3 separate regions of the Homo sapiens genome follow, and all the other regions are linked to region 1. The links come from fine-mapping of genetic effects on gene expression. A gene starts in region 1. Each other region holds a variant in brackets. All regions are shown on one strand. Distances are between the middles of the regions. Region 1 holds the start of TIGAR (TP53 induced glycolysis regulatory phosphatase). Region 2 overlaps CCND2 (cyclin D2). Region 3 overlaps TIGAR (TP53 induced glycolysis regulatory phosphatase).

Region 1 (9,999 bases):
AGCTTTATTAAGAGGTTTATATAAATCCTTGAAGTAACTGTTTAATTAGTACGTTTGGGGAATGGGAAAGGAAACTTGATGGCTAAAACAGTTTTACTATTAATCTATTTCCCTTAACCAAGTCTGACTTGTGATAGCAGCAGAGAAGGTGAACGGAGCTGAAAGGTCAGAGGGATATATTTTGAAGGAGTCAGGAATAACACCACTCATTTTCAAAATCTGCAGTGTGGTCCATTTCCAAAACAGAAACCTGACTCTGCAGGAATCCGAGTGCTTCTGCCAAGATGTTAAGTCTTAGGATCAGCCATTTATAGGCCCTACAAATATACATCATTCATTTTGTAGGTTATCTCACAGTTCTTAAAAGACATTATATCTTGTTAGCCTGGATTTATACGCTGCAGCATTTCTTCAAAAATCATACAGAAACCTCAATTTCCCTTAATTCCATTTAAGGAATTCAAATTCAACACACAATACTCAGCGTGCTACAAAGGAGGAACAAATCATGGGAAAGCTGTTCTTTAGTGTAAATGAAAATGTAAACCCTCACCTGATATCACGAATACAGCTTAGTCCTAATTCCTTTACACTAATACATTCATTTGCAAATATAGAAGATTTCAAGAGCTAGTAACACAAGACTTTTGGTGGTCTTTCTTTTTTTTTTTTTTTTTTGAGACGAGTTTTACTCTTGTTGCCCAGGCTGGAGTGCAACGGCGCAATCTGGGCTCACTGCAACCTCTACCTCCCGGGTTCAAGAGATTCTCCTGCCTCAGCCTCCCGAGTAGCTGGGATTACAGGCGAGTGCCACTACGCCCAGCTAATTTTTTGTATTTTTAGTAGAGACGGGGTTTCACCATGTTGACCAGGCTGGTCTTGAACTCCCGGCCTCAGGTGATCCACCCGCCTCGGCCTCCCAAAGTGCTGGGATTGCAGGACTTTCGGCTGTCTTTGATCTTTATAAAGTATCTGTACAAGGTATCTTTATACTTTTATAGAGCATTAAAATTTTATAAAAGTATTAGCTTTATAAAAATACTAAATTACAGATGAGCTAATAGTATTTTGCTTGCTTTATTAATATACAGAACAATTATTAGCATTACACAAAAAGTAACTGCCAATAAAAGTACAGTAAGAAAAATCAGTTTTGCTATCAGTAACTTTACTAATTCGGCCAGGTGGGGTGGCTCACGCCTGTAATCCCAACACTTTGGGAGGCCGAGGCAGGCGGATCACCAGAGGTCGGGAGTTCGAGACCAGCCTGACCAAAATGGAGAAACCCCATCTCTACTAAAAGTACAAAAGTAGCCAGGCATGGTGGCACATGCCTGTAATCCCAGCTACTCCGGAGGCTGAAGCAGGAGAATCGCTTGAACCCGGGAGGCGGAGGTTGTGGCGAGCGGAGATCATGCCATTGCACTCCAACCTGGGTGACAAGAGTGAAACTCCGTTTCGTCAAAAAAAAAAAAAAGCAAAAACAAAAAAACTTTACTAATTCATTTTTAAATCATTAAAAGTATATTAAATTTAGTTTGCCAAAAAATTTTAAAGCTTTACGAGCTGCCTAAAAATGGAAGTGAACTTTTCTGAGGATCCGACAAGATGGCCGAGGTAGAGCAGAAGAAGCGGACCTTCCGCAAACTCACCTACCGCGGCACAGACTTGGACCAGCTGCGGGACGGGACGTGTCCTGCGAGCAGCTGACGCAGCTGTACAGTGCGTGCCAGCGGCCGCAAGTGAACCCGGGCCTGCGGCGGAAACAGAACTCGCTGCTGAAGCGCCTGCGCAAGGCCAAGAAGGAGGCACCGCCCATGGAGAAGCCGGAAGTGGTGAAGACGCACCTGCGGGACATGATCATCCTGCCCAAGATGGTGGGCAGCATGGTGGGCGTCTACAACGGCAAGACCTTCAACCAGGTGGAGATCAAGCCGGAGATGATCAGTCACTACCTGGGCGAGTTCTCCATCACCTATAAGCTGGTGAAGCACTGCCGGCCCGGCATCGGGGCCACCCACTCCTCCCGCTTCATCCCCCTCAAGTAGTGGCTCAGCTAATAAAGGCACACATATTTCCAAAAAAAAAAAAAAAAAGGAAGTTAAATGGATGGTTTTGCCGGGGACTCACTGCAAACACCTACAACATTCCAAGGAACCAGACCCTTCAGTAGTGCTGGATAGGTGATGGTAATGCCAACCTACACGTGTTGGAGTTTTCAACAATGCTGTGCCATAAGCTCATGAGAAGTTATAGTCTGACAATGATGATAGACTTGAATTCTGGAATCTTGGGCAGTCTGTTCCAGAAATGATACACACTGGTACTTTCATTTCAAAGTATGAAGAAAGATAAACCACATACAGGAACAGCACAAGATTCCTAACAGGTTCTGTTGAACTTAAATTGCTTTAAAGATTTTTTTGCATTATCTGAAGAGGTAAGTCCAATAAAATTATCTAACTCTTCAAAAAGTCATTACATTTAACTATGGTGATAATGAGTCAAATTTAAAAATCACTTCTTTTCCTGAAAGAATCACCAGGTTTTGGTTTTGAGAACTCTGAAGGCAAGAAGCAGGAGGATCCAGACCGGAAAGCATTGAACCAGCCCTCTCACTCCATCTTCCTACACATAAAACAGAACAAAATAAACTATTGTCATAACTCCACACAATTATATTAAGAGACTAAAAAGTAGCCTCAAAAATGGCTGGTGATGTTCAAGTAATCTACAAATACCGGGTTTTAACAAATTAAGTAGGAAACAAAAGACGGTGAGTGGTAAAGTTGCTTTGGTTAAACTCCTACTTCCTCAACTTGCCATGTGACTTTAAGCAAGTTACAAGGCGTCTCTGTCTCAGCTGCCTCATGTGAAAAATGAGGATATCAGTCCTTAACTCACTAAACTGTCAGATTTTAATTACAACAGTGCCTGGCAAATAATCATTTATTAAGACTTATTTTTTAAATGATTCCTATGAGGGCCTCCGGAATCAAACCCTTTTTAAGCAGCAGAAAGGGAATAAAATCCATATTTATATGACTATTGTCTATTAGGAATCTAAATAGGAATCATCTTACTTTTTAGGGGTTGCCTTACCCCAAATATTCTACAACTTCTGAGTTTTCTTTTTTTTCTTTTTGAGACAGGGTCCCACTGTGTCGCTTAGGCTGGGGTGCAGTGGCCCAATCACAGCTCACTACAGCCCTCACTTCCCAGGCTCACATGATCCAAGTGATCTTCCTGCCTCAGCCTCCCTATTAGCTAGGTTCACAGGCATGCACCACCACAGCCAGCTTTTTTTTTTTTTTTTTGTAGAGAGGAGGTTTCACCATGTTGCCCAGGCTGGTCTTGAACTCCTGTGCTCAAGGGATCCACCCACTTCCGCCCCCCAACGTGCTAGGATTACAGGGGTGAACCACCTTGATGGTCTGAGTTTCAATTATAAATATGACACTGGGCTGGCTGGGTCAGGCGTCTAGAAAGTGCACTAACATTGGAAGAAAGGGTGATCAGGCCTCTAGTTCCTGTTCTGCTACCGATTAGCTGTGTGACCTTTAGTAAGTTAAGAATTCTCCCAAGGCATTCTATACAACCGAGAGGGGTGGGAGAAGAGATAGTGAGGAACTAGATTTCTAAGGTAGCCATTAAAATCCTGCTAATCCTAAACAGACAATTTTAGAGGATTCTTAAGATTATCTTTCTTATAAAGGAAGGACAGGCCAGAAAAGATAGCTGTTAAAGTCAATTGACAAAGTTAAATCATATTAATGTCCTTTGTGAGCTCCATGAATGCAGAAATGGTATGTTATTTATCTGTATGATCCAGTCTACTGGCACACATTACCTACTCAAAATGCTGGTGTGCTGAACTATACGTTCGTATTTGGGAATCAACTGCACTTTTATTGGAGCTTTCTTTATAGAAGTTATTTCTCAGATATATTTCTTTCCCTGTTGCATCATACACTTTACCTGTCCCCCATTTAATTCTCGCATTAAAGTAGTGAGATACGCACTATCATTTGCATATCAGGAAACTTAAGTCCAGGCTACCTGGCTCTTAGCTGGAGAACAGACTCCAACCGAGGTCTACCTTGCCTGAAAAATCTGTGCTCTTAGCAGGGCGCGGTGGCTCATGCCTGTAATCCCAACACTTTGCGAGGCCGAGGTAGTCGGATCACTTAAGGTCAGGAGTTCCAGACCTGCCTGACCAACATGGCGAAACCCTGTCTCTACTAAAAATACAAAAATTAGCCGGGCGTGGTGGCGCATGCCTGTAATCCCAGCTACTCGGGAGGCTGAAGCAGGAGAATCGCTTGAACCCCGGAGGCGGGAGGTTGCAGTGAGCAGAGATAGCGCCACTGCACTCCAGCCTGGGTGACAGAGCGAGGCTCCATCTCACAAAAAAAAAAAAATAAAAATAAAAATCTGTGCTCTTAACTACCCTGATTTTCACCTCCCGTTAACACTTGGCAAATACATAAAGACCTATCAGCATGCAGCTCCGTGTAACGTTATGATAATAAAAACATTTATTTGGGATGATACGGTCTGCTGAGATCAGAGCTGTGATCCTCTTTTCTCTCCCAGAACTGTAACCTCTGGGGAAAAGAAAGAAGTCTCATATATGTGCCTGGGGGGCTGACTGCCTGGGGAAACGAGGGGGAACCTCAGAAACTGAGAGGATAGCGGAAGGCAGCCGGCATCAAAAACATCAGCCATGGACGAGCAATTCTGCAAACTCTTTGCAATCTGCTGGGGAGCAAAATCGGTACCCAGACAAGTCTGTGGACATGTCTGGCACCGTTTTTGGTGCAGCCACCAAGTGCCTACGAACCCCGATCCCTTGCTCCTCCGGGCCTCACTTTATCTGAAACACGGAACGAAGCTATCTAAGACCTGCCGTCGTCCCTCGGGGCTGCTGGGGTGAGAGGAGGGGCGACACGGGACGGCCCCAGGGCAAGCGCCCCGGAAAAAGCGCTTCCAAGCCAGCCCTCCCGGGCTGGAGCGAGCAGGGAGGGGAGAGGGTGGTGGACCCGTTTTCCCTTCACCCGCTCCAACACACTCAAGGAAGAGAGAGAGAAAGACATCCTGCCACAGCCATACTCACTGCCGGACAACAGTCAGAGCGAAGCGAGCCATGTTCCCGGAGCCGCGTCCCGTCGGTGGCCCCGCGCCGCGCTGCCCCTGCACTGCGGGCTACCTCCCCCACACCACTTCCGCCAAGCAGCCGGCCGGCTCCGCCGCCATAGGCCGAGGCGGCCTCGCACGTCATCCCCGAAGGCCACTCAGGGCCGGGCGAGGCCGACGGGGCGGGGGAGACGAGGGAGCCACGGGGGCCCCGCCCAGGGCTGCGGCGCTTGCGCCCCTGCGCGCCGGCCTGTGATTGGCGCGCGGCAGGTGCGGGAGGCCCCGCCCGCGGAGTCCGCGGTAGGATTCCTTCCCTCGATAGCCGGCAGCCTGCGTTCGGGGCAGATAAGGAAGCCGGCGCACTGATTTGTGGTTGTTGCGATTGAGGCTGGAATGCAACCGTTCGTCTTATAGCTGGCCACTGTGATGAACCCCTCACGGGTGTACAGCGACCAACAGACTGTGTTCTATGAGGTCTGTTAGTCCCTAACCTTAGGGACGTAGCGTCGGCCAGGTCTGTAGACTTAGACCCACCCACCCCAACTCCGCCGGGACAGACGCCCTCCGTGACCAAACTTTAGTCGGGCTCCTTTGAGGCCTTTTCTATACTAGACGGCATCCTCGGCCTGCTGAGCCTGGTTTTACCAAAGAATCCTGCTAAGCCTGTTTATCAAGAGAGACCTCACTGTTGATGCTCTCTTCTAAGGCCCTTGATATCTAGTAAAGTTCCTCCTCCCCCTCCCCCAGATAGCTTACCACGTTCTGGTAATTTCCCATCTTCTCTTTCATCCCTTCCATCCCGCCCCCTGGCTATAAATCTCCACTGGTCCCGGTTGTATTCTAGAGTCGAATTCAGTCTCTCTCACCTATTGCAGTAGTCTTGAGTAAAGTCTTGCCGTTTTTAACAAGCCTCAGATGAATAATTTCTCTTTAATAGCCTTCAGAACGTTGAGGGAGTTGCTTCATGTTAGATATGAGTTCTAAATTTCTTTTCAAAGAATCAATATGTCAGTATGTTCAATTCTTTGCTTTTTACTTTTAAACTTAACTTCCTCCTAAAGCAACCTTCTCTTTTTTATTTATTTATTTATTTTTTTGAGATGGAGTCTGGCTCTGTCACCCAGGCTGGAGTGCAGTGGTGTGATCTCGGCTCACTGCAAGCTCCGCCTCCCGGGTTCACGCCATTCTGGCTCAGCCTCCCGAGTAGCTGGGACTACAGGCGCCTGCCACCACGCCCGGCTAATTTTTTGTATTTTTAGTAGAGACAGGGTTTCACCGTGTTAGCCAGGATGGTCTCGATCTCCTGACCTCGTGATCCGCCCGCCTCGACCTCCCAAAGTGGTGGGATTACAGGCGTGAGCCACCGCGCCCGGCCACAACCTTTTTCGATTACCTGCTGCACTCTGACTCCTTCCCATTACCTACTCCACCCTGACTCCTTCCCATTACCTACTCCACCCTGACTCCTTCCCATTACCTACGCCACCCTGACTCAGATTACCTGCTCTGTCATAACTGTTTTTCCCGCCAAACCACTCACCCCCATCACTCTCTTTAGATTAGCCAATCGGAATTAGTTTAGCCTGTGCGGTGGGGCACTACACAGCAGCAGGGGCCACGTGCGTCAGGGATAAGAACCCCTTCCCCTCCCTTGTCCAAGTGTGCGCTCACCATTGCTCCATCTGTAAGGACGCACCCTTCTATAGAAGTACCTTGCCTTGCTGAGAATTAAAAAGAAAATTTTATATTCGAGTGCTATTTCTTTTGTGGCACTGAAAGTTTATTTATAACATGAGCTTCTCTAACCCTGGGTTTTGTGACAGGTAAACTGGGATAGCAGTACCTAGCAATGTGACACAAGTAACAATAATGTTAGCTAGGTGACATTGTCTTCCATGCACTGTTACCTAAATTCTTGTATTTCATAATGCATTTATTTCCTTGAATCCCCACTTATATATGAAAAGATGTGTTTAGAGAAGAGATGAATGAGATACTTAGATTCATAGGCACACATTTCAAAACAGTCTTACATGTAATATCACATTTGGCCTTCTGAACAATTCTAAGGTAGACAGGATAGGCTACATTATCTTCACTTTAGAGATGAGAAATATGGCCGGGCATGGTGGCTCACGCCTGTAATCCCAGCACTTTGGGAGGCCAAGGCAGGTCAGGAGAATCTGCAGGTCAGGAGATAGAGACCATTTTGGCTAACACGGTGAAACCCCATCTCTACTAAAAATACAAAAAATTAGCCGGGCATGGTGGCACGTGCCTGTAGTCGCAGCTACTAGGGAGGCTGAGGCAGGAGAATCGTTTGAACCCGGGAGGCAGAGGTTGCAGTGAGCCGAGATTCCAACACTGCACTCCAGCCTGGGTGACAGAGCAAGACCCCATCTCAAAAAAAAAAAAAAAGAAATATGGCCGAGAGAGAGACAGCGATTTGTCTAGGCTCACACAACTGGTCAGCGGTGACACAGAACTAGTTTAGAGGTCCTCAAACCTATCTTTACATTAGAATCGTCTGGAGACCTTTGCCAGGCTACACCCCAGAAAAATCAAATCTGAACTTCTGGGGGAAAGACTCAGGCAGCAGTATCTGTATGCTTTTAATCCCCAGCTGTTTCCAACATACAAGTGGCTGTTCTGAGAGCTAGCAGTTTAAAGCAATGCTTCACAAACTCGAACGTGCACACAAAGCAGTTGGGCATAGTGTTAAAATGTAGATTCTGGAGTTAGTAGATTGGAGTGGGGACCAAATTCAGCATCTCTAACAGCTTGCAGGTCAACAGGAGGCATTTTCAGGATGAGAGTGGAGGGATAATTCAGAGGGCCCTAACAGTGGGGCCCAGATATCGTGTGTGTGTGTGTGTGTGTGTGTGTGTGTGTGTGTGTGTGTGTGTGTGTGTGTCCGTGTCCGTGTTCTGAATGCCCAAATGAATGAATCATCCCAGCAGATTCTCCTGGAAGTTTGAGCTGAAAAAATGAAATTAAGTAGTTATCTGTGAGGGGTGAAGCAGAAAGAAAGCACAGAAAGAAATCATAGGATAGAGTTAGGGCTATGAAGGGGCATGGTGATTGAAGCTGTGAAGAAACAGAAGCCATAAATAATACAAGTGAGAGAACAGAGGAGAGGGTACGAAGAAGCAAAGTCAATGGAAGAAGCAAAGAGACACACAGAGAGACACAGACACAAGTGAGTAATGCAAGGAGTACCCAGTCACTGGTCGCTCAAACTGCCATAGTCCCAGATACCTTGAAAGTTCCGGTTTGTATAGTAAAACCTCTTTCACTTTAAGGTGGTCCAAGTGCATTTCTAACGCCTAAATAAAAACAGCTTCCCATTTTGTCTTATTTAATACACACAGTAACTCTGCAAGGTAGGAGTTATTTCCATTTCACAGATGAAGAATTAAGGCACATACAGGTTAACTAATTTCCCATTTCTTGGGCCAGGCACAGTGGCTCACGCCTGTAATCCCAGCACTTTGGGAGGCCGAGGCGGGCGGATCACTTGAGCTCAGGAGTTGGAGACCAGCCTGGCCAACATGGTGAAACCCCTCCTCCACTAAAACACAAAAAGTAGCCGGGCGTGGTGGTAGGTGCCTGTAATCCCAGCTATTCGGGAGGCTGAGGCAGGGGAATTGCTTGAACCCGGGAGGCAGAGGTTGCAGAGCCAAGATCATGCCACTGCACTCCAGCCTGGGCGACAGAGTGAGACTTCATCTCCAAAAACAAACAAACAAACAAAAACTAATTTCCCATCTCTCAAGATCTCAGAACTGAGTTTGAGACCAGATAAGTATACTCCAGGTTTCAAAACTATAAATCATGAGGGTAACTACTGGCTCTATTTCATTACTTCCTTGGTTCCTAAGAAAATGTTTGGAACACAGTGGAGATTCCATTAAAATCTGTCAAATGAATGAAGAATACCTGTTATGATCAGTTTGTCTAATGAAGCATACATATTTAAAAAAGCTGACATATTGGAGAGGATTATTGTTTTAGGAGAAATTTAGAAAGTTGCAAGGCATCCACCAATGTTATTTCTTTTAATTATCTAAGGAATAAATTAAAAAACAATTCTTCATAAATTTTAAGAATCAGGGGCCAGGCGCGGTGGCTCATGCCTGTAATCCCAGCACTTTGGGAGGCTAAGGCAGGCAGATCACTAGGTCAAGAGATCAAGACCATCCTGGCCAATATGGGCAAACCCCGTCTCTACCAAAAATACAAAAATTAGCTGGGAGTGGTGGTGTGCACCTGTAGTCCCAGCTACTCAGGAGGCTGAGGCAGAAGAATCGCTTGAACCCGGGAGGCAGAGGTTGCAGTGAGCCGAGATCGTGCCACTGCACTTCAGCCTGGCGACAGAGCGAGACCACGGCTACAAAACAAAAAAACAAAAAAAAAAACAGCAACGAAAAACTAATCAGGGGCAAAAACCAGGTTGAAAAATGAGGTGTCTTCAAAATAGTGGACATTGTCCTGCATTATTCACTCAGTGGTTCAGGGATTGCCCTTCCACTTATAAAATGAACAGGGAGTTCACTTAAACTGTATTTCAGATAGAAGCTAGAAACACCCATATATGTATGTATGTGTATATATGTGTGTGTGTGTGTGTGTGTGTATCCATATATATTCAGAGAGAAGCCAGAAATACCCCTATATATATATTTCCAGGTTCTATCTGAATTAGTTTACGTGAACTCCTTGTTCATTTTATAAGCAGGATGTGTGTACATATATGTATATATGTATATACATGTATTTGTGTGTATGTGTGTGTATACGTATATAAATACATATATAAAAAATATGTGTATATATGTTTGTTTTTTTTTTTTGAGACAGGGT
Region 2 (9,999 bases), 31 kb after region 1:
AACCTTCCTTCAGGTTCCACTTCCACGAAACTTGACAATGATCAGCTTGACTTTCGACTACACAAATCCCTCATTCTAGTTCAGCAAGACTAAAAGGGCAAAAGCCTGTCTTGTATAAATGATGTTGAACGCTACTCTCTGATGGTGGAAAGAGAACTTGGCCTCTCCCTTCCATGAGACAGAGCTCATGCCTTGCATATGAATACCTTTGTTTAGCATGGCAGGGGCCCTTTTTGGACTTGGGAAGGGCATATAAATTCTGTGTGCTGGTGGGAAGTGAAGGCAGAGGAGATGGTGCAGTGGTGCTGATACCTGCAACTGGACATGCCAACTCCACATCGCCCGGGTCTTGCCCAAAGCAGGAGGGCAGGAGAATGCATGGGATTGGGGTGGGGGTAGAGATGAGGGCAGCCACCTGGAGAGAGGAAGACCTCCACCTTAAATCCAACCAGGTTGCTTCTATTAGAGGATCAAGCTGAGAGAAGAGTGGAGTTAGTGCTTCCAAAGGGGCTGGATTATAAGAAGACATACACAAATAATCACAGACTTGGAGAATTTGGAGGTCCAAAGGGCCTCTGGAAATCAAATAGCCAAATGCCCTCGTTTCCCAGCTAGGGAATGGAGCGTGGAGAGTTGACGTGGCTTGTCCCAGTGACATCTGGCTGAAAGCTCAGACTGGCTTTAGAAAGGGCAAGCCTCCAATTTCAGAACTCCTTTTTCCTATATACCTTGACTTCTAAGCTCTAAGTAAAGACATACAGACCAGAGAATCTCCAAGAAAAAGAGACAGAGCCCAAGTGGCTGGAAAAACACGAAAGCGCCTCTAATCAAAAGGTGTTACACGCATGTCAAGTGTGGCGGCTCTAGGACATCAGCTTTCCTGCAGCCTCCAAAGCACCAGCCATTGTGTTAAGATGCCCCAAATTAAGCTGATTAAAAGGGAAGCCATAATGCTCGTCTGTCAGCCTGGACAGGTGGTACCCTACCGCGCTGGCGGTCGGGCAGACCTCCAACTTCTATGATGATAGGCCCCCTCCCTTGCCCCCTTCCCTCCTGGCTGCCCCCGCCCCCAAGCCTGGAGCCCTCACAGCAGTGTTTGTGATCTTCAGCTCGTTACAAGGGCCTCTGACTTCCTCTGCTTGCTGGCTCGAGCTCCGCGCCCTGCACCCTCCTCTGCCTCCATGAATGGGCTGACGGAACTCCTACCATTAGCCCTCAGTGTAACTGCACCACCTCATTGTCACCACACACGCACTGCACTCAACAGGGGGACAAAGGGCTGAATGAGCCCCAGACCCGCGGCCAACTCAGGCAGAGACAACTTAGGAAACTATCTCATTCTTCCTTTCTTCACAGGCTGTTTGGCTTATTTCCTTGCATACCAAATGAGGCCCACAGAAAAATGAGGCAGGAGAGGGAGGCATCAGCCCCCGATTCTATTCCACCTCCCCACCCCCAGCTTCCAGCAACACTTCACAAGGTTCCTGACCACAGGCCCTGAAGAGTCCACAGAAGACAGAATCTGTAACAGTGGAGGCTTGAAAATGACATGTGGGGCGAGGGTGGCGGCACTTCCAGCTACGGAGCAGAAACACACAATGCTAAACCCCATGAATCACACACATGTGGTCGAAACTGAGACTTCTTCCACGGCGCCTCCACCTCCCTGCTTTTTAATAGCTCATTGATAACCAGGACCGTAAAATGCCAGGATGACCCTAAGGAAGGGATATCCTGGAATCTTCTCTGGGCAATATTTAAGAATGTGTCTAGGGACAGGGACGAGAGTTGAAACACTCCCTATTGGGTACTGTGTACACTGTCTGGGTGACGGGTTCGACTGAAGCCCAAACCTCAGCATCACACGATATATCCACGTAACAAACCGCACATGGATCCCCTGAATCTAAAGTTTTGTTTTTTGCTTTTTGTTTTTAAAGAATGTGACAAAGAGTTTTGATGTGACTTAGACAAAAAAGGATAAATATAAGGAACAGATGACTAGAGTCTTTCTTCTGTTAAGTATCTTGCAATAACTTCACAACACCTTTATGGCCTGTGAGCCTCCATTCCATTTTTTAGTTAGTGAATTTGTGCAACTGTGTCATATGAAAATGAAGCCACTTCATTTAACCTACTCTAAGATAAGGTTGGGGAAAACTCAGAAGGCTCGGAAGGCCCTGACACAGAATTGAAGTTAAAGAAAAGACACAGCTTTTCAAAGGACATGGACAGACCAGTGAATCGGAAACCCACTGGAAACCCATCTGCCTGCCTTTGTCCTTTGCTCCTTCCTTCCTCTTCCCTTCCTCTCTTAAGCATCACTCCCAATGACTCTGCCAGGGGCTCTGGATAAAGAGCTGAGGAAAAGCTGGGCCTTATTCAAGAGGTTCTATAGACAAGGAAGCAGTGAGATCAATGCTGGCACGCAGCCCGACTAGTGTGCAGAGGGGATGGAAGAGGACCCCGATTCAGCCCAAGGAAGCAGGGCCATGGTCACCGGGGACCCAGGCCAGTGGCACCCTCCCCTCTCAAACCTACCCAGGCACTGGACACCCCCAATAGACGTCCCCCCTACAGCCAAACTGCCTCTCTGGCTGTTTTTAGCAACTCTTACGATTGGAAGGAAAAAGTATTTAAAATATACCACTCTCTGAGACGTTTATTCCCTATAAAACTGTCAGGCCCCTCACTCAGCTTTCTCTTTGGAATGAAGCGTTCTGGTTTATTTTGGCAACCAGACGGAGCAACAAAGGCCGACTTTCTCAGAGCCGCATGCGTCCCTCATATCAAAGCTATCTGCTCCTGGCCAATGAACCACAGAGACTCGCCTGGCCATCTCACAAGAATCAGGGGGACCCTCTTTCCACAGCTCGATCCCCGACAACCCACGACCTAACCCCCAAAGTAACAGAGAGCATTGCAAGCTTGAAGAAATCAGAAACAGCAAGGTGTGTAGGAGCTGACATATAACTTCAGGGGCTCTGGGGGAAACTGTCAGCTCTTCCTGATTCCCGTTTGTCAATGCACTAGGGCCAGGGGGCAAAATGTGGTCCTGTGTATTTCACTTTTCCAGGGAAGAGCTCAACATCAACCTATGGGCATTTCATAGCGTGGCCCGAGAATGTTTCAGACATACATACATACATATATATATATCCATTTATGTATGTGTGTGTATATACATATATACACACACACATTTTACTATCATAAATACACATAATGTCAAATTTCCCTTTTCAGCCACTTTTAAATGTACAGTGGCATTAAGTACATTCACACTGCTGTGTGGCCATCAGAACTCTCCATCTACAGAATTGTTTTCATCATCCCAAACTGAAACTCCGTACGCATTAAACACTAACTCCCCATCCTCTCCTCTCCCCAGACTCCTGGGAACCTCTATTCTACTTTCTGTCTCTACGAATTTGACTATTCCAGGTACCTGGTATAAGTGGAATCATACAGTATTTGTCTTTTTGTGTCTGGCTCGTTTCACTTAACATAGTATTTTCAAGGTTCGCCCATGTTATAACATGGATCGGAATTTCATTTCTTTTTAAGGTTGAATAATATTCCATTGCGTGCCCATACATTTTGTTTCTCTACTCTAAGAACAGTTTCTATCACCAAGTTTTCTCTGCTGGGAGGCCGGCATTCTACGTTAGGCCTGATGAGCTCCTTCTTTTGGGTTGATTTCCTACTGCATTTAGGGTTCGTAACACGTTACGTAGCACACCTTTGTTTACGTTCTTAATTTGCTAGGGTTTTGCACGCTTTACTCTTGCTTCATCATACAACTGCTAAGTTCCTTGAAGGCAGGAATCTCATCCTCTATTTCCCAGATGCCACCATCCACCCCAACTTCTAGCAACAACTGGGCCTTCAGTAAAGACTTCCAGAAACGAATGAAGGAAATACACCACTTCGTGACTCGTGAAATGGTAAACAGAGCTCAGGAAGCACAACTCACCTCCCTCCAAACACTAATGTGTTCTAAATTCTAGTCCTTTTATTTTTCTTCCCTCTGAGCGTCAGCTTTTCAGAGAACACAGGCTGATGGATGGGAGGAGATTTAGCACTTGGAAAGGTGCATAAACACACACACACACACACACACACACAGCCTAGCCCAGAGCTGCTTGAACCTTTCCACTAAAAACATTTTCAGGGAGAGCGAACCAGCCTCCGGGGTGCCAGAGGTAAGCCTGGAACTTCCTGAGGGCTCAGATTTTTCTTTGAAAAAGTGTTATGAATTGTACATTTCACCGCGTTCACTCTTGGTTTTTAAATATGAACATGTTCAACCCAGGTCCACCGGTGTGAATGAGGCACACACAGGCAGCCCCAGTTAGGAAACACGGCGTGTGCCCATTATAGAAATGAGGTATCAACTTGACCAACAGTTAGGATTTATAGGAGGACACCCCTAAACCAGCTTCGTACCCACTTCATATCCATTTAACAGAGTTGGCCAGCTGACTTAAATGGACTGGCTACGTAGTATCAGAAAAAGGCAAACAGTTTCCCCAGATGAGATGACGGACTGACTTGCCTGCGGTCTCGAAAAGCCAAGAGACTCAGCAGCAACTCCCAGGAGGGAAATTTCCACCACTGTCCATGTGAGATCAGTAACGGGGGACAAAGGGAGGTGGGAAAAGGCTGGAGCCGGTAGGGTGGTCAGCCCATCAGAGCAGGTCTATCAACATCGGGGGAAAAGGTTACAATGCCTGGGGGCAGGAGGAGGGGGGTGGCCGCTTCCAACTCCTGTCACTGACATTTTTGTCTCCAGGCATTGAGGAAGGGCTTGTCTTAAACTGGCTGAGAGTCCTATTTGTAAGGCAGCCTTAATTGGAGACATTCAGAAAAGGAGGAAAGCGTACCATTTCTATAAACGTTAAGTCCCGTCCACGATTTTCCTCTGGAGGATTAGAAAAGCATTCTTCATGCTGCACTGGAGGGAGGTTTTCAGTCTGTGTTCTGGAGTCCTCGTTTAAAAAGCGTATGTTTGGAGCCCGCATTTTAAAACCATATCTACGAACTATCTCAGAGGAGGACCCCGGATTTGCTCCGTCAGCATCTCCCTGCGCCATTTCTCTGAGCTGGGAACAAATGCCAGGGAAAATCCAGGTGGGCGGGCGAGGAGGCCGGCGAGCTGCAGCCGTGGGCTCTCTGAGGTTTAACCTGTCCCGTATCCCTCGTGCAGGCCTCAGCCATAGGCCTATAAACCACATGATCCCTTAACTCAATAAAAGCCCGCAGAGGGCATCTGAATCCCCCCGGACCATCCAGAGGGTGTCATCGTGAAGTGCCCAGCATTCTTCAGCCTCTCCATGGTGATGCATGAGGGCTCAGGGCCAACACCCCTCTCTCAGGTTGACTTTAAACCCCAGGGTTTTTTTTCAAACCAAAAGATCCCAGGAGCGGCAACAAGGGTGGAGTGGGAAG[T/C]TTCCAGGGGGCAGTCGGAGCCTGGGGGTTCTAGCCCCAGCTCAGCCACTGCCCACCCCGCTCCTGGCTGGTTACTTCAGTCCCTGTCCTGCCCGTGGAAAACGAAGGAATGGCCTCTCTGACCTCTTGGCACCATCCTGTCTCGGACGGGCTAGGACTGCAGCTTCCTGCTGATTGAATTCAGAGGCTCACTTGACCCTGGTCTCTCTCAAAACCTTTCTTCTCAGGAGCTCCAAATTCTGGCAACAGGAAGTTAACAGCCTCTGGGCCGTCCACAGGGCACACAGAATGGGGAAGCTCCGTAGCTAATAATAGTTTCTTGAGTTTGTATGGCACTTTGTCTTTTGAAAGCACTTTGTAATCCATTACTGCATTGAACAAAAGGGAAGAGAGAGCGGGGAGGGGTCGAGAGGTTTGCCAGGGACGGACACCGTTCTCACAGTGGGGCACCTCTTGTGTGTCTGCTCCATCCACTGCAGCTGAGTCCTGGCTCTCCTTTCTCCTCTGTGCGCCTTACAGCCTCAGCGTGTGAAAGCAGACACGGCAGCTCTTCGCTGCCGGGCAGAGGCAGCCTGGCAGCGTGTACAAATATGGCAATGAAGCAACAATTCAGACCCACTGAGAAGCCCACGCCATAAAGGAACATCGGTAAACAGCCCTCCCACCCCCACCCCCTTCATCTGCTTGCTGAGTTTTCTTCCGTATTTTCCCGTGCACAGCTTTTCAGAACCTTAAGAGGGGGTGTCACCTGCTGAACTTTGCACTCCCTTGGATGTCGATCTTAGGAAACAAACCAGAAAAATACCTCTGACACAACATAATCAAATCCGTCGTCTCCTTCCCTGAGCTGAGAAGAGACATCTGGACTTAGCCAAGAAGGTGGTGGCCACCTACCACGTCTGTGTTGGTGATCTTAGCCAGCAGCTCAGTCAGGGCATCACAAGTGAGCGAGCTCACTTCCTCATCCTGCTGGAGCCCACAGATGGCTGCTCCCACACTTCCAGTTGCGATCATCGACGGTGGGTACATGGCAAACTTAAAGTCTGCAAGGAATGAGAGGCAGAAGGTCAGGGCACAGAACGAATTTGGATCCTGGAGCTCCCGAGACTGCAGAGACTCAGAAACAGGACGGCAGCAGGTCAGCGGCGCGAGTGACCCCGTGCCCTACAGGCATGTCCTCCCTCGAGTTCTTTCACAAGGAGCCTGTGTTTATTTGCCATCACCATGGCTGTTCCAGATTAAACGAAGGAGACTGAGGCAGGGAAGGAAGACAGCTTATCTAAGCGCACACAATGAATGCACAGAGGATTCAAGGTCCCCAATCCCCAGATCCCAGTCATATTAAGCATGTCTGAGTTAACATTCTTGACCCTGGTGGGGGGAGCAAGGTGAGCGAGTCATAGTCTCCTCTAGAGGTGATGGTGGGAACAGAGCAGAGAATGCCTGAGACCAGTGCAGACAAGGTACCCCATGGGCCATGCAAGCAGGACAGACCAGGGGCTCCAGATGTGAGAAGGAGGGAAAGTACAAGGAGATGGGAGAAACGGGCAAAATCTATGCATAATGCTAATTCAGATGGGATCTTGTTATAGTCTCTGGACAGGCATTGAGGATTAATATGACCCCCACCCAAAAAAAAAAAAAAAAGGTTTGATCTAAAAAAGGAAATGAGAGAAGCAGCAATGCAGGGAGTGGGCGAGTGGGGGCTGAGTTCCACCCAGTTCCCAACCTCTGGCCCAACAGCAAGAACCCTCAGAACATTAGGGCAGAGGATTCTAACCCTAACATAGGGCTCTAACTAAGCACTGAAGATTAATCATTGCATCCGAATCAGATGGGTGACTCGGTTTCGATGTTATGACTCATGAGACTGAAGGCCCCATTTTATTGCTAAGAGAAAAAAATGTGACTTGCTACAGGGAAGTGCAGAATGAGGATAATAAATCAGAGGGGCTTGAACCCCGTCCACTGCCATGCTAGAGGGCTCCTCTTGGAAGACCAGCCCCCTTGTGTTCCTCCGAGCACTCCTTCAGAGGGGCTGGGTGGCCATGATCCAGCAGCTGCTTGGTCCATCGAGGGGAAATAAAGACAGCCAACTTCTCCTGTTACAGCTGCTGACAGCTACCAATGACCACCACATGCAGTACGCTACACATTACGTCCTGTTTAATTTACCCATCAGCCACAGAAGATGCACACGAGCGTCACCCTAATGGTATGGGTGAGAACCCTGAGACTTTTGAGAGTTTAAGTTGCCCCTGCTCGTGTTGACAGATATTAGGGTGGGTATAGTTGCAGCCATCACGCTAGTGACGGTCCTGGAGTGCAGCAAGTCTTCCAAAGCGTACTCTTTCTCGTTTTAGCATTGCTCTAGTGAGCTTACTGTGTGTAGACATGGAAGGGGCACGTGGGGGCAGGAGACACAGCATACAGGGAACCGTGGGTCACCCTTCAACTTACAGCAAAAACAATCAGGTTAAATCTACAAAAACCAGCCCCTCTCCTATTTCCCCTTCCTCCTGTACACACTCTATTACAAACACACTTTCTACAGCAGCTCTTTTAATGGTCAGCCCATTGCCCCAGCATCAAGTTAGCAGCATTGTTAGACACCGTGGATCCCTGAGCCAAGCACAGCCCTCCCCTCCCATCATGAACGCAGAGCAAACCTGGCCATCTGCCTGTCTCCTTGGCTTTTTCTCCATTGCCCTCTCACCATCTCCACCTCTTGAGGGACGTATATAATGGTGCTGCGCCCACGCCTGCTGTCCACCCGCCCCTCCTACGCCTTCTCTGTCGCCATGAACAGTGTGACAAAGCCAGCCTCCCTGCCTCTTGCTCTGCTGTAGGTCTCTTCCACATGGGTCACAGGAGAGTGTTTCTCTGCCCAATAACCTCGTTAGCTCCCCCCTGTGACATTCATAACACAAGCGGGGCAGCCGGCCCATGGCCCTGGGCCCACAAAGGCCCGGGTGGGAGCATCTGCCAGGGAAGAGGCAGGCAAGTATCCCCGGCCCTCCCTTCCCTCTGCCATAGGCCTCAGACCGGGAAGCACACCTCACACATGCCCATCTCTGCTGTCCCACTGCTAGCAAAACCAACTCTTATTATTGGCATACGAATGAACTTCTGGAAGCCAGCAGGCATAGGGGGAACAGGTGCACCGGTTGCACAGGGAGACTCTACCTCCCTTTTTGTTTTACTAAGAAGATTTTCAGGGGAGTCCTCTTGGGGACACTGTCCAATCCCACAGAATTGGGGAGCACTATGTGCATGAACTTGACTGCCTCTCAGCAGCTCAGAGTGGCACCAAAGGAGCAGTGTGTTCCCACAGCCAGAGGAGAGACGCCGCTGGAGACGAGGACGGCGGCCGTGCTGCCCTCTGTTGCCCGCTACACAGAAGACGAGCATCTTCCTCGGGATCCCTGAGCATGCCCCACCTCTCCTCCAGGTTAGTCAAATACTGAGGCAACATCAGCCCTCCAGCTAGGTCCAGACGTGGGACTGTGGGCAAGTCACTTCCTCTTTCCAAGGGCTTGGTTTCCCATTTGTCTAATAACGGGTTGGGTGAGATAAGTGTTTTTCTAACTTCTAGCTGCAACTCATTAATGGGTCATGAAATGCATTTGTGGGTCGTGACCAGCACTTTCTGTTGTTGTTCTCCTTTAACCAAATAGAGTAGGATAGAAAGTATCAGGCTCACCGTATGTCGTTAAGAGTAAATATTGTTCGGAGAAACTTTTGTATCAGTTTGATATACTTGTACAAGTATCCTGAGTTGTGTTATAAAATGTGTTTCTTCCTACATGGCTTAGGTCAAGAGTTTAAAGATAGTAAGCAGGATAACCTCCCAGGTGCCTTACAGGTCTACTTTGCTCTTACTTGAGGATCTGGAATGGGAATGACTCCCAAGGAGAAGAACAATGAGGAGACAATAGAATGGATCACGGTGTCTACCAGCCGGCAAATTCACAAAGCAGCCCTCTCCACAGAGCGGCGCTACTTCCCCGTGGCACCAGGGCTGCCCCAGGACCACTCTCAAGGACATCCCCCTCTCTACTGGTAGGGGATACTGAACAGAGAGAAAAACAAAAAAATCAAACATCATTTCATCTGTGCACTAGCTTCCTAGCTGTAATTAGCCAACCCCCACCCTCAACTGTGGAAAGCTCCACCTACCCAATGCAGCCATTCCTGGAAACCATCAGCTTTGTCGCTATGACAGGATGGAGAAATGGTCACAATATCCACTCAGAAGAAGGAAGCGGAAAACCAAATTGCATGCATGCATGCGACGATGAAGATTACAACCATGGGTAAATACATACATATATGCCTATGGATGAACTGGAAGGATGCACGGAAAATAAAAGCTGTTCTGTTAGGTGGGAGAAACACAGATGAGTTTGTAAAATTTGTACGTAATATTATTTTAACAAATAAAAACCAGGTACAAATTTCTCAGCAGTCTGTTAAGTCTCTTGATCAAAAATGCCAACAAGCAATATGCTGGTGCAGAAGGCACGCTCAGGGGTGAGGGTGTGCCCT
Region 3 (9,999 bases), 31 kb before region 1:
ATGTACTTAAGTGATATGGCCAAATATTGCACTTCCTGCATAAGCCTAAGCCATGGAATGGGTGTGAGATGCACTGTTCTCTCAGGGATATCTTACTTTATGTGCTTCCCCTAATATGAGCATGTCCTTGCTGAGTATGACATAGCATTTAAAGAAATTAGAATAAAGATGCTAACTAAAACAGGTTTTTAGTTAAAAAGCAATAAAGGAGAATCCTCATCCAAAAATGGAAATGAATAGTAGGTGAGTGAGGAGTGGGAAGGACAGGAAAATAAGAGACAGGTGAATGGGAGCCATGGTTTCGACTCCAGGTGCAAGGGAGCCTAAGCGACAGGCTCTGCTTGAAGCTGCGAGCCTGGGGTGAAGCCTGGAACTGGAAACTTCTGCCCATTCCCTCTGCTAGGCCTCGGACTAAACCTAACAGAAACAGGCAAGACAAGGTGGGAAAGATGAGTACAGGGAACACAGAGGACTTTTAGGGCAGTGAAAATACTCTGCATGATACTATAATGGTGGAATACATGTCTTCATACGTTTGTCCAAACCCACAGATCATGCAACACCAAGAATGAACCCTAATGTAAACTATGGGTTTCAGGTGATGTGGATATGTCAGTGTAATGTGGGCTCACCGATGGTAACAGATGCACTGGTCTGGTGGGGGATGTTGATAGTAGGAGAAGCAATGCGTGTGTAGGGGCAGGGGATAGATGGGAAATCTCTCTACCTTCCTCTCACTTTTGCTGGGAAATTAAAGTTTCTCTTAAAAAATTAAGTCTCTTAAAAAATTCATTTGTTAAAAAACAATCAAAAACCGGGAAAATATTACAAATAAAATATCATTGCATAAAAGACTCAGGCAAAATGAGAGATCTATGACATTCACAGATGGGAGGATGAGAAATCCTAAGCTAACCTAGAAATTCAATGTCCAGGCTCCTTAGTTAGCCATTGGAGGCACTCTGGCCTGGTCCCTGCCAACATCCCTGGCCTTGCTTCTTCAAATGGCCCAACAGCCAGTGCTGCCATCTTCCCTGCCTCCAACCTTGTGCTCCTATAGCACCCCCTACAGCCTGCTCTCCACATTGCAAGCAGGATGGTCCTGCTGAAACAAGTCTGATCACATCACTGCCCAAACTGGCCAATGGCATCTCATCTCACTTGAGTAAAAGCCCAAGGCCTCAGCACAGGCCACCAGGCCATGTGGCCTGTCCTCTTCTCCCGTCACTCTCCCATCCCCCTTGCTCAAAGGAGTCAAGCCTGATCCTTCCTCATGGCCTCTGCACTCTACTCCTTCCATGCTGCTCCTCTCCCCAGAGCAGCAGATCTTACATCCTTCAGTGCTGACACCATCGAGTCCTCCCTGCCCATCCTGGATAAAGCAGCATTCCTCCCACCAGTCTCCATCCCCCTTACTCTGACCTATTTTGCTCAACAGCACTGACCACAATGTGAGCCAACACACTGTCTTCTCTGACAGAACAAATGTTCCACAAGGACAGAGACTTTGTTTTGGTTCATGGCTACATATTCACAGCTTTATCATAGTTGTAGTAGTTCTTAAAATAGCCTGGCATGTGTGTGCCATGCTCAAAAAATACGTATTGAATAGATGAAGAGATGCATGTGACTCCAATAAAATTTGTAACAGAATTTTTCTGGAAATTGACCAATTGATTCCAAAATTTATATGGAAGAATAAAAGTGCATAAATAGTTAAGACAACTTTAAAAATGAACAAGAGGAGGTATCCACCCTTTAAGACAGTCAGCTGCAAAGCCACAGTAACTAAGTATGACACTGATAAGGAAATACACAGATAACTAAAAGAGTCCACAGACTCTAGCAAATGAGGGGGTGTGAGGCCTGAGAGCACACACCACAAACCAATTGGGAAAGAACAGCCTTTACAATGGTGTTGGGATAACTGTTTCAACCACATGAAAAAAAAAATTAAATTCTTACCTTATACTATAAAAAGCAAATTTCAATTTCAAGATTTGACATTCAGAAGTTCTCAAAAACTGTAAGAAGACATTACTGTATGACCTCATGGTAGAGAAGTCTTCTTAAAGATACACACCAAAAAAACCCCATAAAGGATAAGGTATATTGGTTTGTCTTAAAAATTAAGAACACATATTAAAAAAATGCATCATAGGCCAGGCACGGTGGCTTATGCCTGCAATCCCAGCACTTTGGAAGGCCAAGGCAGGTGGATCACCTGAGGTCAGAAGTTCAAGACCAGCCTGGCCAACATGGCGAAACCCCGTCTCTACTAAAAAAAAAAAAAAGGCCAGGCGTGGTGGTGCATGCCTGTAGTCCCAGCTACTCAGGAGGCTGAGGCACAAGAATTGCTTGAACCCGAGAGGTGGAGGTTGCAGTGAGCCAAGATCACGCCATTGCACCCCAGCCTGGGCAACAGAGAGAGACTCTGTCTCCAAAAAAAAAAAAAAAGAAAAAAAGCAAAGAAAATAAAAACTGAATATACCTAAATGCCCACTAATAAACAAAAATGTGCTATATTTAATAGAATAGAGTGGTTATAATTAACTAGATCTATATATATCAACACAGAGATGCCTCCAAGACATAAGTAAAAATAAAGAACACAGATGGCTTGATATTTATTTTTAAAGCACCAAAACAGTACCATCTCCTTCCAGACACTAGGTGAAAATATAAGGAACAGATGAACATTGCAAGCAGATGAACAGGTGAACATATACACAGACTCACTGCAGTGGCTGCCTCTGGAGGGAACAGGACTGTGAGAGCTGGTTAAAGAGAACTCTACTTTTATCTTTATGTTTTGTTTCTTTAAAAAAAAAAGTGGAAAGATGACTTCAGTATGGTGGGAATGGAGATAATTATTGTCTGTCCTTTTTGCTTATTTTTCAAATTTTTATTTACAGTATACTTCCTCTGATGCTCAAACACGTGCCCTGTTTCAATACTGGTAGAAAACTGGTAGTGCTAGACACACTAAGAACAATATAATACTGAATTTTACATATGATTTAAAATGATGTCAAAGTAAATTTTGACTATATGTGACTATAGCCTTAACTGACAACTTTAGTATTAACCCTCTTTAAAGTTGAGACTCACAGCATTTAGCAACATGGTGACTTAAAAGCGAACTACATGTAGAACAGTTTCTTCATTTAGATAAAGATTTCTGAAAGACCAATCTTGTGTATAAAATTAAGTTAATCAAAATCCCTTTTCTCCAGTGCCATCTGGTGGAAAGAAGAGGCAACCTCACCTGTACCTGCCACAAAATAACCACAGCTGTGGTTATCAGAGCAACATTCTCTCCCCCCCAACCACCCCGCCTTCCCTGCCCGCAGAGCACCCTCTGTCATCCCCTCTGTCACCTAGGCTGGAGTGAAGTGGTGCGATCTCGGCTCACTGCAACCTCCACCTCCCGGGTTCAAGCGATTCTCCTGCCTCAACCTCCCAAGTAGCTGGGATTACAGGCGCCTGCTACCACGCCTGGCTTTTTTGTATTTGTAGTAGAGACAGGGTTTCACCATTGTTGGCCAGGCTGGTCTAGAATTCCTGACCTTGTGATCCGCCCGCCTCAGCCTCCCAAAGTGCTGGGATTACAGGTGTGAGCCACTGGGCCCGGCCCAGAGCACCATTCTTTACAAAGAAGGCCCCTCTTTTATTCTGATTACTGTGTGGTGTTCTGTTAACTGTTTACTTTCTTTAGAGCCTTCCTCAAACTGGAAATTCTTCAGCCTACAGGTTAGATAAGAAGCAAGTGGATATTCTTCATTTTTTTGGCTTTCCTGGTTTCCATTGACTTGACTTTGGCAAGGCATTATTTAGAAAAGGCTGTTCTTCTATCTTCTGCTCCAAGATTCTTTCTTTACTGTATTTAAATCAAATGTTTTAACTTCTTCCCCCAGACCATTCTGCAATCATAATCTGTATTCATCCACATTTCAAGCCCTCTAGAATAAAAAATTCCAATAGTTGATTTATACGTAAAACATGTTAGTGTTATTTTGCTTTACATAAACTTATAAGGATTTTTTATTTAAAGGATTTAAAAATATAACACAGTCAATATAAACATGTACTGGGAATTATAAACCATTCTTTCTTCTAAGCACTGGATGAGATACTAAAAACATACAGTATCTTACCAATAGCCATTAAAATAGGCTAAAATGAAAAAGAAACC[G/A]TTGTAACAAGGTTACTAATCCCCCAACTTTCAATGCTGAGTTCCTTCATCATCCATGTGCAATCCAGAGATGACATCTAGCAGGGTGGTAAAATTATTCTGGAAAATGCCAACTGTACTTGGACAAAATAAGTTAATTCTATATGGTTGTCCATTAAAGTTTTATGTGGCTATGGTTCCACTGGAGCTAAAAATTGGCTTTTAACTGTTTCCAAATCAGAACTAGCAGAGGAGAGAAGTAAATAAAGCCAATGGCACTCCCTTCAGAGGCTCAAAATGGTTAGATTTTGATGCAGATTTAACCTTAGCGAGTTTCAGTCAGTCCATTTAGATGATCCTGTAGGTTCATACAAATACACTGAACCGTTGGTTTAACTTCTCTTCCTTCCTCAAAGTTTATGATAAAGAGACTCATCCCTGTATTGGGAGTGACTGACATAAGTTCAGATCTGCTCAGAGTGGCTGGTAAGGAACACTTAAGGTCAGTCAGAAAATAATCAAACAGACTTCTCATGTAAGCACCGTGACTCACAACTAAGACACTGGCTGCTAATCCTGGAATACCGCTGTCTGAATTAACTTTAGAGCTGTGATTTTTTCCTAAAGGAAATATCTCTGCCAAAGAAGTTTCCAGACAGTTGCTTGGAGATCCTTGGGAAAACTGTTCTTTTTGATCCGCTTCTTTCAGGATTAGTTGACAAAGAAATTCAAAAAAGTCTATTCCACGCATTTTCACCTACAAGAAAAGAAATAAAAGTCAAAATAAAGTGACATTAATGACTTCCTTAAAACGTTAACATAGAACATAACTGACTGGATTTTTTTCTAATATTGAATGCCAAGTACTACACAAGCAGAAGAATATCAATCTACATTTCTATTCGTTCAATCAGTAGTTTCATGGACATATATAAGTATCCACCACATTTCTGGAATTACAAAAGCACCATGGAGACCAAGATGAAGAAGATCCAATTCCCAATTCCTGAGTTCAAAGCACTCACGGTCTAGTTAGGGAAATCTACAAGCCAACAGAAACTCATAAAACAGTGCTAACCAGGAAGCTGTCTCTGGCACTTCAGTGCCACTGGAACAACAGCAGCAACAAATCCTTCCCTTACTAAAGTAATGGAAAGTATTTTCAAGAAAATTAAGATAAAGATTAAGGAGGTGGTGGTGGGTTAGGGGGAATCACCAATATGCAATTCGAAGCAGAACACTCCAAAGAAATGCAAGCACAGGGATGCCACCATGAACAGAGCTGAGGAGGCAGCAGAGGCTTGAAGACTTCATGTTTTGAGTTATTTCACCTCGAGTGACTTGCCGATCACCCTCTTTGAACTCCACTCCCACCACTAAGCCACTGCTTCATATTCAAAGGTCTTTTTTAGAAGTACCATCTAATAACACCTTTCCTTAAGTCCATTATCAATAATGACAAAGGCAACTGAACAGTAAATAAGATTTTAAATAGAAAAGAATAATTTGCTAAGTAAATAGATAATTTAAAATGGAAAAGAGAATGAACCAAGCAACTTTCAAACTGCTTAGCTAAAATTCCAAAACATCTAATTTTGAGTCTTAATTCAACCATTCTGACATCGGCAGCGCCACATACCTGGTCCAGCGTCTCTCCTCCGGGCGGTGTAAACACAGGGCACTCTTCCCTGGCTGCTTTGGCCATGGCCCTCAGCTCACTTAGCGCTTTGCCTTCTACAACCCCGTATTTCTGAAACAGTCCAATAGATAACAGTTTCTCAAATGAAATTGCAATATAACAATTAAGTTTATGTTTATGGCAAATTTAGAACATTCATCCCAGGAATAAGCTAACTCTCCTCCACTTAATTGATTCTATCTCCTCTGAACTGATAATGAGAATGTACTCAGTAGAGGGCCATGAACCTTAGAAAATATAATTGAAATCTTAAGTTGTACACTATGTCCAAATGGGTTATTTTAGAAGAACTTGCTATTGCAAGCAGATGGTGGGAATTTATTGAACAAATACAGAGATTTGCACAGATTATAGGACTAGAGATTAACATGCACAAGGTACCAATTCAGCCATCTCCCATCCACACATACTACACCATTTGATCCCAATGACAGCACCATGAAATAGCTAAATAAATATATCACCATAGTTATAAGGAAGTTGAGTTTCAGAGACGCTAACATGAGAGATCTATTTCTTTTTTTTTCTTTTTTTTTTTTTTGAGACGGAATCTCGCTCTGTCACCCAGGCTGGGGTGCCGTGGCGCGATCTCAGCTCACTGCAACCTCCGCCTCCTGGGTTCAAACGATTCTCTTGCCTCAGCCTCCCGAGTAGCTGGGACTACAGGCGCGTGCCACCACACCCGGCTAATTTTTTGTATTTTTAGTAGAGATGGTGTTTTACCATGTTAGCCAGAATGGTCTCAATCTCCTGAACTCAAGTGATCTGCCCACCTTGGCCTCCCAAAGTGCTGGGATTACAAGCGTAAGCCACCACGCCAGCCACATGGCAACATTGTTAAGCTATTAAATTGGAAAATCACAGAGTCTAATAATACCAATTGTTGGTGTAAAAAAACAAAACTTTCTCCTAGGTCATTCATGGGACTATAAATTGGCACAGGTTTTCTGGAAGGCAACTTGGCAATATGTATATAAATGCCTTTAAAAAAGTACACACTCGCCGATGTCCATTTCTAGAAATATATAGGTCTACAATAAATTAACTACAAAGATGTTTATTTTGACATTATTTACATCAGTGGTAGTCTAGTGAAAATCTAGCTTTCCATCAGCGTAGCTAGGTTACATAAATTATGCAATATCCATATTTTTCACCTTTACTTTAAACTCTTCTATACTGTGTTAAGTTCTTATGAGCGTACCTTCTTTTATACCTTAAGATGCTTGTCTCGTTTGATTTTAATAATAAGATCCTATATACGAGGGTATGTAACAGTGACTGTCATATGGTAGATTCTTAAATATTTTCACTGATTCGAAATCCCTAGCAGAAATGCATTTAACTTTTAGCCAAGTGACAAACTGAGGTGGCTTACTGATAATTTATGGGGAAGAACAATATGTAAATAAGTTACTCACCCTTTCCCGAAGTCTTGAGTCATACTTTACCGTCATATCTTTGCAAAATTTGCTTCTCTCCAAAATTCCATGCATGGTCTGAAAATCAAGACAATTGTTTCTTTCTTTATAAAAATAATCACCATTCTGGTGGAAGCACTGAAAGAATCTATGTCATCTTAGTGAATAAAAAAGAACTAGAACCAGGCACGGTGGCTCACACCTGTAATCCCAGCACTTTGGGAGGCTGAGGCGGGTGGATCATGAGGTCAGGAGATCGAGACCATCCTGGCCAACATGGTGAAACCCTATCTCTACTAAAAATACAAAAAATTAGCCGGATGTGGTGGCACGCACCTGTAGTTCCAGCTACTCGGGAGGCTGAGGCAGAAGAATTGCTTGAACCTGGGAGGCGGAGGTTGCAGTGAGCTGAGATTGCGCCACTGCACTCCAGCCTGGGTGACAGAATGAGACTCCATCTCAAAAAAAAAAAACAAAACTAGAAATGATTTTCCTTTGCAAAAGTTGCCTCTCTGTGTACATCTGTGTACACATCTGTGTCTCTTCATTCCTGATTTTGATATTCTCTTCTAACCTATCTTTTAGTTCAGAAGTCAGCACAATCCAGACCATCATCTGCTTTTGCAAATAAAGTATTTTACTGGGACACAGCCACAGCATTCATTCATGCACAGTTGATGGCTGCTTTCTTGCTATTACCGCAGACTTGAACAGGTGTTAACAGAGACTGTATAGACTATAAACCCTAAAAAAAAATTACTATCTGGCTCTTTACAGAAAATGTTTACTAATCCCCATTCTAATTCCTTAATTCGCCATTCAAATGTGTCTAAATTGTTGTTAAACCCATCCATTGAGCCTTAATTCCAATTGTATTTTTAGTTCTAGAATTTGCATTTGGCTCTTTTTTACAGTTTATTACAGTTCTGTACTGAAATTCTACATCTTTCACCTATACAAAAATATAGTTATTTTAAAGCTCATGTCTGGTAACTCCATCGGGTAAGTCATGTGGCTGTTTCTGTTGTCTTTAGCTCATTTTTATTCACATTTCCTTCTCTCATTGTAAGTCTAGCAATTTTTGATTGACAAGCGACCCTGTCACATAGAAATAATTTAGGTCCATGATCTGCCTTTTTTAAAAACACATTTCCCAACAAATTAGACATCATCATCATACTGTTTTATATGTACTGTCAATATTTCCTTGTATTTTCCTAAACCTTTACCAACTTCTTTGCTCACTATTCTTTTCTGAAACTCAGATCTCCCTTCTGCAATTATTTTCCTTCTTTTTCATTTTTCCTTTCAAAGTTACTTCAGAATCTCTTTGTCTGAAATGTCATTTCACCTACACAGCAGAAAAAAATCTTGCTGGGTATAAAACTCTAGGTTAATCCTTGTTATTTCTCAGCACAATAAAGAAATCATCAATATGAACAAATTTGCTGACAGCCTAACTAATGGTCTTTAATAAAGGATGGTTTTTTCCTCATTCTTTGGAGTCTTGCAATTTTGCTATAATGAATGTAGATATGGGTTTCTTTACTTATCCTGGTTGGGATTTGGTACACTTCTTGGATCTTTCAACAATTCTGTAAATTCTGTAAAATTGTCAATATTCTGTAACCTCTGAATATCACCTCTTCCTCCCATTCTCTCTGCTATCTCTTTCTGAAAGACATTAGAACTTCTCATCATGCTCTTCATGTCTTCTAATGTCTCCTATTTTATTTATTTTTTAAAGGGACTTTTTTTTTTGAGACAGGGTCTCGCTCTGTCACCCAGGCTGGAGTGAAGTGACACAATCACGATTCACTGCAGCCTCAACTACCTGAGCTCAAGTGATCCTCCCACCCCAGCCTCCCAAGTAGCTGGGACTACAGGCAAGTGCCACCACACTCAGCTAACTTTTTTATTTTCTGTAGAGACAAGGTCTCCCTATGTTGCCCAGGCTGGTCTCAAACTCCTGAGCTCAAGTGATCTTCCCGCTTCGGCCTCCCAAAGTGCTGCAATTTCAGGCATCAGCCACTGTGCCCAGCTAAACTCTCATATTTTAAATCTATCATGCCGTGCTACATTTAGGTTATTATCATATATTTATCTATAATGATCACTTCAGCCGTGTGTGATCTATACTTCAGTACTTCCACTGAGGTTTTCATTTTTTGGCTTTTTTCTGTTTGTATTTTAATTTTTAATTTTTGTGGGTATACAGTAAATGTATATATTTATGGGGCACATGAGACACTTTGATACAGCCATGCAATGCATGACAATCACATCCTGGTAAGCAGGGTATCCATCCCCATAAGCATTTATCCTTTTTGTTACGAATGATCCAATTATATCCTTTTAGTTATTTTCAAATGTACAATTACATTGTTATTGACTATAGCCACCCTGTTGCGCTATCAAATACTAGGTCTTATTCATTCTTTCTTTTTGTACCCATTAACCATCCCCACTTCCCCAACACCTCCCCCTACTACCTTTCCCAGACTCTGGTAACCATCCTTCTACTCTCTATCTCCATGAGTTCAATTGTTTTAATTTTTTGCTCCAACAAATAAGTGAGAACATGACAAGTTTGTCTTTCTGTGCCTGGCTTACTTCACTTAACATAATGACCTCCAGTTCCATCCATGTTGTTGCAAATGACAGGATCTCATTCTTCTCTGTGGTTGAAAAGTACTTCATTGTTT

What was found.
Region 2: its variant is fine-mapped to the expression of TIGAR in whole blood (INTERVAL, PIP 0.98).
Region 3: its variant is fine-mapped to the expression of TIGAR in thyroid (GTEx, PIP above 0.99). The same link has a PIP of 0.9 or more in iPS cells, prefrontal cortex and prostate.

Annotation. Positions count from the first base shown.
Region 1 is chr12:4,316,421-4,326,419 of GRCh38, reverse strand. It overlaps TIGAR (TP53 induced glycolysis regulatory phosphatase), which reads right to left and starts at 5,207. Exons shown (of 6, transcript NM_020375.3): 1 at 5,117-5,207. The coding sequence starts at 5,148. It also overlaps the pseudogene RPS15P7. RefSeq lists a silencer at 5,117-5,496 and an enhancer at 4,962-5,615.
Region 2 is chr12:4,285,337-4,295,335 of GRCh38, reverse strand. CCND2 (cyclin D2) reads right to left here. Exons shown (of 5, transcript NM_001759.4): 4 at 6,346-6,494. Among named protein-coding and RNA genes, the nearest start is that of CCND2-AS1, 14 kb to the right of the region's middle. RefSeq lists enhancers at 720-1,219, 1,220-1,721, 8,836-8,885. The variant T/C (reference allele first, on the strand shown) is at 5,452.
Region 3 is chr12:4,347,192-4,357,190 of GRCh38, reverse strand. It overlaps TIGAR (TP53 induced glycolysis regulatory phosphatase), which reads right to left. Exons shown (of 6, transcript NM_020375.3): 4 at 7,295-7,372; 5 at 5,814-5,924; 6 at 1-4,931. The coding sequence ends at 4,500. Among named protein-coding and RNA genes, the nearest start is that of FGF23, 28 kb to the left of the region's middle. The variant G/A (reference allele first, on the strand shown) is at 4,196.